2 linked regions of the Homo sapiens genome follow. The protein of the gene in region 2 interacts with the protein of the main gene of each other region in a biochemical or structural test. Each region holds a gene or a part of one and is shown on either strand. Other genes may lie near its edges.

Evidence for each region. The genes of interacting proteins can lie anywhere in the genome.
Region 1: of the proteins of CCNF (region 2) and CCP110, one has a biochemical effect on the other in vitro, tested with the Homo sapiens proteins (one study listed by BioGRID).

What each region holds. Positions count from the first base shown.
Region 1 is NC_000016.10:19,526,907-19,533,943, reverse strand, and holds part of CCP110 (centriolar coiled-coil protein of 110 kDa), read right to left. Parts: intron 6,078-7,037; 5' UTR 6,063-6,077; coding exon 5,922-6,062; intron 1,529-5,921; coding exon 1,400-1,528; intron 1-1,399.
Region 2 is NC_000016.10:2,453,416-2,459,360, forward strand, and holds the end of CCNF (cyclin-F), read left to right. Parts: coding exon 1-122; intron 123-1,979; coding exon 1,980-2,149; intron 2,150-2,650; exon of another isoform or gene 2,651-3,129; coding exon 3,130-3,605; 3' UTR 3,606-5,439; downstream 5,440-5,945. UniProt on the Homo sapiens protein: Substrate recognition component of a SCF (SKP1-CUL1-F-box protein) E3 ubiquitin-protein ligase complex which mediates the ubiquitination and subsequent proteasomal degradation of target proteins.

The DNA of each region.
Region 1 (7,037 bases), about 17 Mb from region 2:
TTTCGAGTAACTGAAATGGAAAATCACATGTCAAAGGAAAAAGTAAAGCTTAGGAACTGAGTCACACAAAAACTGCCTTCCTTTTATTCCTAAACAGATAGCTGCAAAATAGAAGGCCACCTATCTACCCAGGTAGACTCTCTTGCAAATTGCTCACAAGGAAATTCCTCGTAGGCCCCAAAATCTTTACACCAACCCAGAGTTCTGCTGAATTTCACTCTGACAAGATACGGACAAAGACCAAAGATGACTAGAAATCATCCCTTTGGAGACAAATGTATATTTGACTTCTTCCTCTACTCTGCTTACTTTATCCTATGTAAAATGCAGATTTATTGAGCTTGAGATGAATGCATAACTGACTGTTCCTCTACCCCCACCTTTCTCATGCGACTTGTGGATTCAGTGAGTGCTAATCAAAGCCTCACAAAAATGTGATCGCTTATCTCATTACCTACCCTCCTTTTTTTTTCTTTCCTCTTTCCCCTCCTGCTGTTCTCTCCCCTTTATACACTGAAGTCCTCAAAACCTCTTCTGGAAAAGCATAAGCCACAGATTCTACTGTAACTTTTGTCTCTTTTTCCTTGGCACATCCTCAACCTTGGCAAAACAAACCTCTAAATCGATTGAGACTTGCCTCAGTCATTTTCTTCAGTTTACACTACCAACAGAGAAATGAACCCTTAAGGTTCATTATACACGTGTCATCGATACGAATTAAACAGACAAACCACAAACTCCTAAGATTATGAAAAAACAAAAAGATGTTACCAGCAGAACACTGCTATATGTTGTAGAAATTATTCGTTCAATCTAATTCATTTGTTTTTCTTTTTAGTACAAAATGATCCACATGTCAGAACAAATTGTTTATACAAATCTAAAAATAACTGCACAAGGTGTAGATGTGTTGTTTAAATAGTTTTTAGACATAGGATGCATCTAAACAATTCAATGTTATCTAAACTGCATTTTGTGTATCTAAGAGTTTTCACCAAAAAAAAATTGGAGGCAGTTATTTACTTAAGCAAAGAATGAGAATAAGGTCATTTAGTCAATAGTCTAATTAGTTTGGGGTAAACAATAATACCCAATTCTGTCATTTTGTCACTGAGAATTCAATGTTTTTAGAGTCATAAGATGCAAACAATAAGCAATTATATTCAGTGTATGGTTCTATTGTGTAAATATCCTCTGATTCAAGTACTGGGCATTACTAACAAGCAAGTACATTCTCTTTGGAGTAACTGAAATGGAAAATCACAAATTATGAAGCTTCTCAAACGTAACAGTAAAGTACATTAGTAATTAGTTAAGTGCAAATATATTTCAGAAAAATTATCATCAACGCTTATCTTATGATTTCTTTATTATAACTGAAACAGCTAAAATCACACACCTGAACATTGTCAAGAATCTCCTGGACACGAGTCAGTAAAGCTTTCTTCCTGTTAACCTGCTTTCTTGCTTCTACATCAAGTGCTTTCTGCTTTTCTTGTTGCATTTCCTTTCTTTTCTCAATGTTAAGCTGCAAAACATCATAAAAATGTAATTATTTCCCACGATAAAAATATCATAAAATCGGGAAGTTGTGAATCAGAAAGATTAAAAACATGTGCAACAGGCAAAACTAATGTATAGTGAAAGAAATCAGAACAATGGTCTGGGTACTGAGTGGGATGGGGCATTAGAGATCTTTCCATGGTGAAGAAAATCCTGTGTGGGTGTGAGTTATACATGTGTATGCCATATATCAAAACTCATGGAACTTTAACACTTAAGATTTGTGCATTTTGCTATGTGTAAATTATTTTCAGTTAAAAGGTTAAAAAGAAAAAAGTTTGTTCACTAATCAAATGTTCTAAAATGACAGAAATAAAATTAAGGCCCTTTTGGCCACTGCTGAGTTTTTTATTACTTCACTTGAATATTGACTTGAATATTACTTCACATTCAGTATCCTTTTTTTTTTTTTTTTGAGATGGAGTCTTGCTCTGTCACCTAGGCTGGAGTGCAGTGGTGCGATCTCGGCTCACTGCAACCTCCGCCTCCTGGGTTCAAGCGATTCTCCTGCCTCAGCCTCCGGAGTAGATGGGCTTACAGGCGCGTGCCACCACGCCCAGCTAATTTTTGTATTTTTAGTAGAGATGGGGTTTCACCATGTTGGTCAGGCTGGTCTCGAACTCCTGACTTTGTGATCTGCCCACCTCGGCCTCCCAAAGTGCTGGGATTACAGGCGCGAGCCACCGCGCCTGGCCCATCTTCAGTATCTTATTTCACTGGATCAACTGGATTCTACAACTTTTAATTTTCTAACCAGTGCACAATTTAACTCTTTGCTGCCTCAAAAAATGTCCAAAGGTTTAATGATAAAATAAACAGATAATATATTATTTGCCTACAAAAGCAGAATACATCTTTTCTTTCACCTCACTCTACCTTCTGATAAAAATATAATGTACCTAAAAAATGGAAGGCTTCTAAGCATTGTATCTCTTTATAATGGATTTCAATCTTAATTATTAAGTCCTGGGAAATTAAATCACTGTTAACAGTCAAGACTTATCGTAGACTTACACAAATAGAAAATATATCATTAAAAAATTATTTCAAAAGTTGCAATATTCACCTATCAAATACAACATAAAAGTGTGGATTAGGTCCATAAACATCACATTTTGCTTATAAATAAATAACAGACGGAGTCATAGACCCTACACAACAAGCCTCAGACATTTTGGTCCACATTAAATCAAGCAATGTGTTATCAAATAGCTGATAAATATGTTGTTTTAAAACTTTTTCCTAATTGCATGGTACCAAAGAATGATTATACAATTTACTTGCTAATCAAAAGGAGAAAATGTGTACTTTAAAGAGCCATCTGGCAGTCACTACTGTAAGCAAGTGTTCAAACTAAACATCACTAATAGAGGGCAACTAAACATTATGTAACTTCTGATTTAATTTAGTATGAAGTGCAGGGCATCATCTCCAAAGAATTCCTTTTTTTTTTGAGATGGAGTCTCAGGTTGGAGTACAGTGGTGCGATCCCGATCCCTCCTGGGTTCAAGCGATTCTCCTGCCTCGGCCTAACGCACAGCTGGGATTACAGGCACCCACCATCATGCCTAGCTAATTTTTATATTTTTAGTAGACAAGGGGTTTCGCCATGTTGGCCAGGCTGGTCTCGAACTCCTGACCTCAAGTGATACACCCATCTCGGGCTCCCAAAGTGCTGGGATTACATTTTTTTTTTTTGAGAGAGGGTCTCACTCTGTTGCCCAGGCTGTTGTGCAGTGGCTCGATCTCGGCTCACTACCTTTGCCTACTGGGTTCAGTGGATCTTGGCTCACTGCAACCTTCGCCTCCTGGGTTCAAGGGATCCTCCTGCCTCAGCCTCCCACATAGCTGGGATTACAGGCATCCACCACCACGCCCAGCTAATTTTTGTATTTTTAGTAGAGACGGGGTTTCGTCATGTTGGCCAGGCTGGTCTCAGCCTCCCAAAGTGCTGGGATTACAGGCATGAGCCACCCCGCCCAGCCCTATCTTCAAAGAATTCCAAAAATCTTTAACCTGTTTATCAAACTTCACTTCCAGTTCATAGGAACTACAGGGACTAGAGAAACAAGTTAAATAACACTATTAGGAAACAATGGGACAAATCCAAGATCTAAGGAATTCTACAAGACAATAGCTCTGGTCTCTTTAAAAATTCAGTATCATAGTTTTGTTATTTTTTTAAAGACAGTATCTCACTCTGTCACCCAGGTTGGAGTGCAGTGGCATGATCAGGGTTCACCGCAGCCTCAGCCTCCCGGGCTCAGGTGATCCTCCCACCTCAGCCTCTAGAGCAGCTGAGACTCCTGGTGCGCGCCACCACACCCAGCTCTTTTTTGTATTTTTTGTAGGGATGAGATTTCACCACGTTGCCCTGACTGGTCTCAAACTCTGGGGATCAAGCAATGCAATCCACCCACCTCAGCCTCCCAAAGTGCTGGGATTATAGGCGTGAGGCACCATGCTCAACCAATAAAAAAAACTGTTTTTAAGACGTACAGTAGCTATTTTAGATTAAAATAAAGAAACATAACAAGCAAATACTAATTGTGAACTTTGGATCCAGATTGGGGGAATAAAGTTATAAAAGGCATTTTGAGCACAAATGGAAAAATTTAAATATGAACAGAATTATTAGATATTATTAAAAATTATTAGTTTTCTTAAGATGTGATAATGGTATTGGGGCTTTACATAGGAGAATGTCCTTATTTTTAAGAGATGTACACCAAAATATTTAGGGGAGCAGTGTCAGGTCTCCGTGGTTTTCAAATAGCTAGGCAATTTTTAAAAATGTCATATGTACACACACACATAGATGTATATAAAAATCACAAACACAATAAAGCAAAGATGACAACAATGTTAAAAATTATTTAATCTAATGGTAAATCTATGGGTGGTCACTGCACTATCCTTTCAACTTTGCTGTATGTTTGAAAGTTTCATTACAAAAAGTTGGCAGTTAGCTCTGGTGTCTTTAAAAATTCAATTCAATTAATTAAAATTAATCTCTTAACTCCTGTTATACCAAAAAATAAATTTAAAGCTCACTTTTTTCTAATATTAGTTTGTGATTTAAAATAAAGTCATATGCATTTTTAAAATATCCAATTAGTATCAAAGGGTGTATGATGAAGTGTCTTCCCTATTATCCTATATTCTCTCACCACTCCCCAGAAAAGGAATAGCCATCCTTTGAAAAACCCAAATGGTTAACTTATATTGGGTACCTCTTATGATCCAGGTGGTATTCTAACCATTTTATATCTACGAATTCATTTAATCTTCAAAATAGCCTTATGAGGTAGGCACTATTTTATCCCCATTTAACAAATAAGAAAATGGACCACAAGTTTACACAGCAAGTAAGTAGCAAAGCAATGATTTGGACCCAGGCCAGAAGGCTCCACAGCCTAGACTTTTTTTTTCCTTCTTTTGGGATAGGGTCTTGCTCTGTTAGCCCAGGCTGGAGTTTTTTTCCTTCTTTTGGGATAGGGTCTTTCTCTGTAGTCCAGGCAATGATGCAATCCTGACTCACTGCAGCCTGCAACTCCTAGGTTCAAGCGATCCTTCCGCCTTAGCCTTTGAAGAGCTGGGACTACAGGCACATGTCACTGCGCCAGGCTAATTTTTTAACATGTTTTTATAGAGATGAGGTCTCACTATGTTGACCAGGCTAGTCTTGAATTCCTGGTCTCAAGCAATCCTCTTCCTTCCGGTCTCTCAAAGCATTGGGACTATAGGTGTGAGCCACTGTGCCTGGCCCAGAGTCTGGACCTCTAATCATGACTCTATACTGCCCCTGACAGCATGCTGCACACGGTGTTTTACACTAGATCATTGAGATCCTTCCATGCCTCAACATTTACATCTGCCTTACTGTAATGGTATGTATGAGAGTTTATAAAATAGACCATAGTTAAACTACTCCACTACTGATGGACATTTAGGTGGTTCGTCAACCTTTGCTATTTTAAACAATGCTAATGTAACTTTGTACTTATTTCTTTGGGCTCACATATAATTGTAGGATATACCCAAAAATGGAACTGCTGACCCAAAGGCTATGTATGCTTTTAAATTCTACCAAACTGCTCATCTAGAAATAAAATAAACTGATTCTCTTAGCAAAAGTGCATTAAAAGTGCATTTTCTCCACAATCTAAGGAACACAAAGTTCTATTAGGTCTTGGCCAATCTATAATAGTAAGTAAAAAATGCTAATTCATTTGTATTTCTCTAATTCTGAATGAGGGCATCTCTTCAAATGTTTATAAGCCTTTCTTTTGTTTTTCCACGAACTGTTTTAGTTGTTCACTACAGAAAAAAACTATTTAAAAACAAAGCAAGTTTACCAGTGGAGAAAGGATAGCCACTCCATGAAAGCGAATAAGTGAGATACTTTCAGACTGAGCAGGGAGAAAGCTCTCTGTGGATAGTGATGCTTCTTGTATTCTGGCAAGACTTTTTTCACAGAACTTCTCATACTCCTCCATCTTCCCACAGTCACACTACAAGAGAGAAAAATGTTATTTTTAATGTACTGGGAAAAACAGATCTTAATTATTTGGCAGATTTTGTAGAGCATGAGAGAGTCCCTATAATTCACAATTCCTATAACTGGTCCTCCCAGAATTGTCTTACTGATCAGGAGCTAATTCTTGGGTATGGTAATTCACCTCAAGAACCTGTCCAATTAAGATTTACTTTATATATTAAATATTTCTGAATATTATTGCATGTAAATCAATCTTTAAATGGGATTAATTTAGCTAAGAATTCAGTAAAACCTTCTTAAAGGAAACAAAGTTCTGTAAATCTTTACTAACTTCACATTGTAAAACAGGATATTATATTTTCTTTAACAGGACTTATCTACACAAGAAAAACTATATCATACAAAGGTACAAACACTGTAGTAAAAAAGCCTACTTAAATCAAAGAATATTTACTTTTAAAAATTTTCTATTTTGAAGTTCAGAGGTTACTCTCATATCTTTTTTTTTTTTTTTAAAGAGACAAGGTCTCACTATGTTGCCCAAACTGGATTCCAGTGACTATTCACAGGTTCAGTCACAGTGCACTATAGTCTCAAACTCTGAGACTCAAGCAATCCTCCTGCCTCAATTTGCCTATCTTAACACTATACTTGGACTGCATGAGCACCAGCCAACTCAGTCAGAGGTAAAAAAGAGCAAATCGATTGGCTCTGATATTAATTATATTTTATTGTTGAAAATTGGAACCATCACCAAACTACTTAAAACAATCCCAGTAATTTCACAGTTTCTGGGAAATTGTGATTATGAAAATACAAGGTAACCAGGAGGGATTAGGCATCATATTCATTCATTTAGCAAACAGTAAATGTTGATTGCTTATTTGCACAGCATTATGTGTGGCACTGTTTCCTTTAAATAAGCAAGGGAAAATAAAAAGACATTATCAGAATCATAACCAGCAAGGGTATG
Region 2 (5,945 bases):
AGCTACAGCCAGTTGTGTGCTGCATTAGGAGTGACACAAGACAGCCCCGACCCCCCGACTTTCCTCAGCACAGGGGAGATCCACGCCTTCCTCAGCTCTCCCTCGGGGCGGAGAACCAAACGGTTAGTTACCCTGCGTTCTGGCTGCGCCATACAATGCTGGCATCCTCGTGCCGGCCCAGTTCCCTCAGCGCTTCCTCACACAGAGAGGCCCCCAAGGCTTGTCAGGGGAGCAGCAGATCCCAGGACAGTGACCCTGGGACGGAGCCCTGCAGTCATGCCTCGGGCCCCTGCGTAACCTCCACTGTCTCCAGCCCAGGTCTCCTTCCTCAGAGGCTATTGCCTCTCGCTCTGACTGGGCTCCCTGTGGAGGAAGATGGTTTCGAGCACGCGGGAGCCTAGCCTGGCTCTAGCCCTGCCCGTGCCTGTCATGCGCGTCCTGGACTTCTCTGCTCCATGATGCTGCTGTCACTCCCGGCACTCGAGCTGTGACCTGAGTCACATCCCCAGCACTTCCCTCGCCACCCGTGTGGACCTGTTTACCCGCCTCTCCTATCTCAGCACCTTGGCTGTTCCTCCTGGAGTTAACTTCCTCTTTCTACCTCACCCGCCTGGAGAACTCCTACTGATTCCACAAGGCCCCGATGAACAGGGCCCTCCCTGTGCTGCTGGCCCTGCGCCGTGACCCCTCAGCACCATGTGCACCAGTAACCTTCCCAAGGGCAGGCACTGGGTGGCTGGGTCTTTCCTGTCAATATAGGACCAGGCAGGGCTGCCTCCAGAAGCGTTGTGTCGGGAGTGGGCTCCTGGCAGGAGACCTCAACTCCTGGGGAGCCCTGGGGAAGCAGCCAAAGCCCCTGCTGCTGCTTCCTCCCCAAGAAGCGTGACAGCACTTTCCATTGTGTGGAAGGCAGGAGACCTGACCCTCCTGTGTCACTCCACACACGCACCGACTCCCTGGGGCCAGGGTCATCACGAGGAAAGTCCATGCAGATACGCACGGCTACTCCAGGAGGGGGCCTGGCCCTGGCCCTGTGCTCAGCCTCGCTGTGTTAAACCCGCTTCTCAGAGGCCCCCCACAGCCCCATCAGTCTTCTGAGACAGACCCCCACGGGTGACACTGGGATAGCTCTCTCCACCCCCCGCCCTCCACCAGGCCCTGGGGTCAGGAAGTGGAAAGGCTCAGCTGGTGTGGCGGCTTTTCCCAGGCTCACGCCCACACACTGGCCTCTAGCCCCATCCTGAGCAAGACTTGACCCCAGTTGGGTGTGGGTGTCAGCACCGCCCAAGGCCAGGCCATTCCATGCAATCTGCCTGGCGCCGGGCTAAGCACTGCCTGCACCTTATTAATCAACACCAGAGGGGCCGGGTGCGGTTGCTCATGCCTGTAATCCCAGCACTTTGGGAGGCCGAGGTGGGCGGATCACCTGAAGTTAGGAGTTCGAGACCAACCTGCCCATCATGGTGAAACCCCGTTTCTACTAAAAATATAAAAATTAGCTGGGTGTGATGGCGGGCACCTGTAGTCCCAGCTACTCAGGAGCCTGAGGCAGGAGACTCACTTGAACCCGGGAGGTGGAGGTTGCAGTGAGCCAAGATCACACCACTGCACTCTAGCCTGGGCGACAGAGCAAGAACACCTCAAAAAAAAAAAAAAAAAAAAAAAAACACTGGAAGGTGGCATCATCCTAGAGGTTTCCAGGGGACCAGATGGTTGGCCCACGCCCCACAGCTGAGCCGGGTGGGCTGGGCTTCACACCCAGACCTGGGGCCTGAGTTTGCCTGAGCTGTCCTCCAGGTTGGCCCTGCCTGAAGGGCTTATACCTGTTCTAGCTTCACCGGCATCTTCTTCGTAGCAGAACCTTTGGGAGCACGTGGTGACAGGCTGGGGCACGCGGGTGTTAGAGGCAGGTGTGGAGGGCCTGGCCTCCCAGCGCCGCCGTCCATGACTGGGTCTCCTGGGCTCTCTCCACCTTGCAGGAAGCGGGAGAACAGCCTCCAGGAAGACAGAGGCAGCTTCGTTACCACCCCCACTGCGGAGCTGTCCAGCCAGGAGGAGACGCTGCTGGGCAGCTTCCTCGACTGGAGCCTGGACTGCTGCTCTGGCTATGAAGGCGACCAGGAGAGTGAGGGCGAGAAGGAGGGCGACGGTGAGTGTGGGGCCAGGGTGCACCAGAAGGGACATCACACAGAGGGTGGCTCTCACCGAGGGCCTCTGGGCACCCGGCCCTGTGCGAGCGCTGTGGGAGGAAGATGTGCACAGAGTGCGGGGTGGGGCCAGCTCCTGCCCCGCCGGGGAGTGTGTCCAGACATGGGGAGAGAGGAGGGGAGAGCCCCCAAAAGACCACAGCTGCTCCCACCACACAGGGATGAGAGGACTTAGGCCACACCTATCCGGCTCCTGCTCATTCCGTGTTGGGAGGACCTCACTAGGATGAGGGAGGCAGAGACCCTGTCTGGAGTTCATGGAGATCCTTCTAGGCCTGTAGTCTCATGCCTGTAATCCCAGCAATTTGAGAGGCTGAGGCAGGAGGATCACTTCAGGCTAGAAGTTCAAGACCAGCCTGGGTGACACAGCAAGACAAAAAATTTAAAAATTAGCTGGGCATCGTGGCGTGCGCCTGTGGTCCCAGCTACTCAGGAGGCTGAGGTGGGAGGATCTCTTGAGCACAGGAGGTGGGAGCTGCAGTGAGCCGTGATCATGCCACTGCACTGTAGCCTGGGCGTTCTTTCTAGAATGTTGTTTGAGGTGTGCCCACGTGGTATACGTGACACTCCTCACTGCCCTGCTGGGATCACTGCCCTGTGCAAACCCCAGGCAGACTGCGGGGTCCTTGCCAGAAGCCCAGTTAGTGTGAGTCCTGTCAGTTTCCCGGTTGCTTGCTTCTGCGTCCACTTGGCTTGAGCTAGATGGCCAACTTGTCATCTCCACATTTGTTGGAGTCATGGCGGGCAGCTGTCCAACTTGGAAGAGGCATGTCACCCACGCTTCTCACCACAGGAGGGTAACACAGGGGACCGTAGCAAGGTAGAAGATTCTTGACCTGGACTTCAGGGTCCTGACCTGGCAGGGGGTCTCCCCTGATGCTTGGGTGTGACATGACTTCCCTCCCCACCAACCTTCCTGCAGTGACAGCTCCCAGCGGCATCCTCGATGTCACCGTGGTCTACCTGAACCCAGAACAGCATTGCTGCCAGGAATCCAGTGATGAGGAGGCTTGTCCAGAGGACAAGGGACCCCAGGACCCACAGGCACTGGCGCTGGACACCCAGATCCCTGCAACCCCTGGACCCAAACCCCTGGTCCGCACCAGCCGGGAGCCAGGGAAGGACGTCACGACCTCAGGGTACTCCTCCGTCAGCACCGCAAGTCCCACAAGCTCCGTGGACGGTGGCTTGGGGGCCCTGCCCCAACCTACCTCAGTGCTGTCCCTGGACAGTGACTCGCACACACAGCCCTGCCACCATCAGGCCAGGAAGTCATGTTTACAGTGTCGTCCCCCAAGTCCCCCGGAGAGCAGTGTTCCCCAGCAACAGGTGAAGCGGATAAACCTATGCATACACAGTGAGGAGGAGGACATGAACCTGGGCCTTGTGAGGCTGTAAGTGTGTCAGCACATTTGCCGCAGTGGATGTGTACTGAGGGGGCTGGAGGCGAAGGGTGGGAGCATAGCATAGGAACGCTGCATAGACCATGGAGGCCTTTGCGCAGAGAGCAGAGAGGATGACTTGCGGCCACCAAGTTTCTGTCTCCGCGGGAGTCCCGTGCAAGCCATCAGAATGTTGAAATGAGGGTGAAGAGCTCAGATCCCTCTCTTTGGAAAGTTTAGCCTGGAAGCAGTTGGCCACACTGTGTGGAGGGCACCTCTCTGTCCCTTCCGTGTCTCACTGTCTCTGGAAGCTTCAGCCCATGTGTGTCCTGGTGTTCCCAGCCCCACCAGAGCCCCGTGCCGGGAGCTGACAGCTTTCACGCTTAAGGCACGTGTGACCTGGGTAGTCAGACACCACTTGAGCCCCTGCCCACATCTGCTGGTTTGGGGCTTCAGTGGGGAGCTGACAGCTGTGAGCACACCACTGTCCCCTCATCCACCTCGGCCTGCATGGGGCACCCACTTCCTTCTGGGTGGGGCTTCCATGGTAAGGGGGCCTGCGTCCCTGCACACTGCGAGGACTGCCTTGGCCACAGGCCCACTCCCTACGACACGTGACTCGTTTTAGAGCTCTGTCCCAGAGGCGTTCGTATGTGACCCACAGATGGCGTCAATGTGAACACCTCTCTTTGTGCTGAATTTCTGGGCCATTCTTTTCCTGTCTTATTTCTAAATTTCCTTCTTCCAAGATGAAAACAAAAGAAAAACTTAAAACAGAAGGTATTAAAAAAACAAGAGATTCCCACCATTATTTAGGTTCACCTGCAAAACAAAAATCTTACTCCAGCCCCTCAATGCCATCCTGACACACTTTATGCAAAAAGAATTTTCCCAGATAGGCTAGCCAGAAAAAACTTCAAGTCCTCTGTAACATCTGAGGTGACCAAGAGGCAGAAGAGCAGAGCAGTCGGGGGCCGTGTCCTGGCTGATCCCAACTGCAGCTCTGCTGTGGGGGCCCGTGGGAGGGAGGCAGACCCCTGGGCTTTCCTGCTGGCCACGGAGACTCTGCTCCTGCATGGAAAGGGAGCCTGGGAGCCAGCAGCCCACGCCTGGGGAGCCTGCCTGGGGCCATGTGACCATGGCCTCTCCCTGGGAACGGGCTGACCACAACACACCCTGCTGCCATCCACTTCTGTTTACTCTGCAAATGTAAGAAAGAACCACTTGGCCAGAAGTGTCCCCCAGATGCTTTTTTTTTTTTTTTTTTGGAGACAGTTTTGCTCTTGTCTCCCCGGCTGGAGTGCAGTGGCATGATCTCAACTCTCAACTCACTGTAACCTCCGCCTCCCGGATACTCCTGCCTCAGCCTCCTGGGTAGCTGGGATTACAAGCACCCAACCACGCCCAGCTAATTTTTGTATTTTCGGTAGAGACGGGATTTCACCATGTTGGCCAGGCTAGTCTCGAACTCATGACCTCAAGTGATCCGCCCACTTCGGTCTCCCAAAGTGCTGGGATTACAGGCATGAGCCACGGCGCCTGGCCCCCAAATGCTCTTGAACCGGAAACCCAGGGATGGGAGATGCTCACTGAGCTGCTGCTTTTATGTGTGCTGGTGCTATGTGTGTTCATGTCCGCGGCAGCTGTCTTTTTGCTACTATAAGGGAATTCTGGCCACCCTGGGTGGGGTGTGGTCGGGGTGAGAACCCAAGCGTTGGAACTGTAGACCCGTCCTGTCGACTGTGTGCCCCTGGGCATGTGTGAGCCTCAGTTTCCTCATCTGTAAGGGGGGCAATGATACCTACCTCACAGGGGTGTTGTGAGGATTAAATGTGAGGAGGATAGTGGCAGATGAGTGATGGACGTCCTTCACTGCCTCGGCCCCTTGTCCAGGGGCTCTTAATCCCAACTCTGCATGGAGTCAGTTCTCTGCTTTCTCCCAGCTTGCACCTGAAGGAGGAAACCACTCCAGGGGGACCTGGCCCCGCCTGCCTGTGGTGGGTGGGTTCCTGCATCACCCACCTGCTGACTGAGCATTTCCCTGCCTCCTCCTTCACAGAGAATCTCCAGGGAGGCAGGGCCACCGTCACCCTCCCCCACCGCTGATGGAGGGGCCCACCCGGAGCGCTGGGCCAGAGCTGCCTGGGTCCCAACCTCCCTGACAACTCCCTTTGTGCCCTCCTTCCCCTCTGCGATGGCACCTTCCCATTAACGACTATGGAATGGACTCACCTGTCCCATCTTTAAACAGCAACCCCAGGCTCTGTTTTTCTTTCAGCTACCGCCTGGGATTTCTTGCCCCCTAATTGTTTATTCTTGTTAACACCAACTACATGGGGCCCTGCTGCCTTCCTCA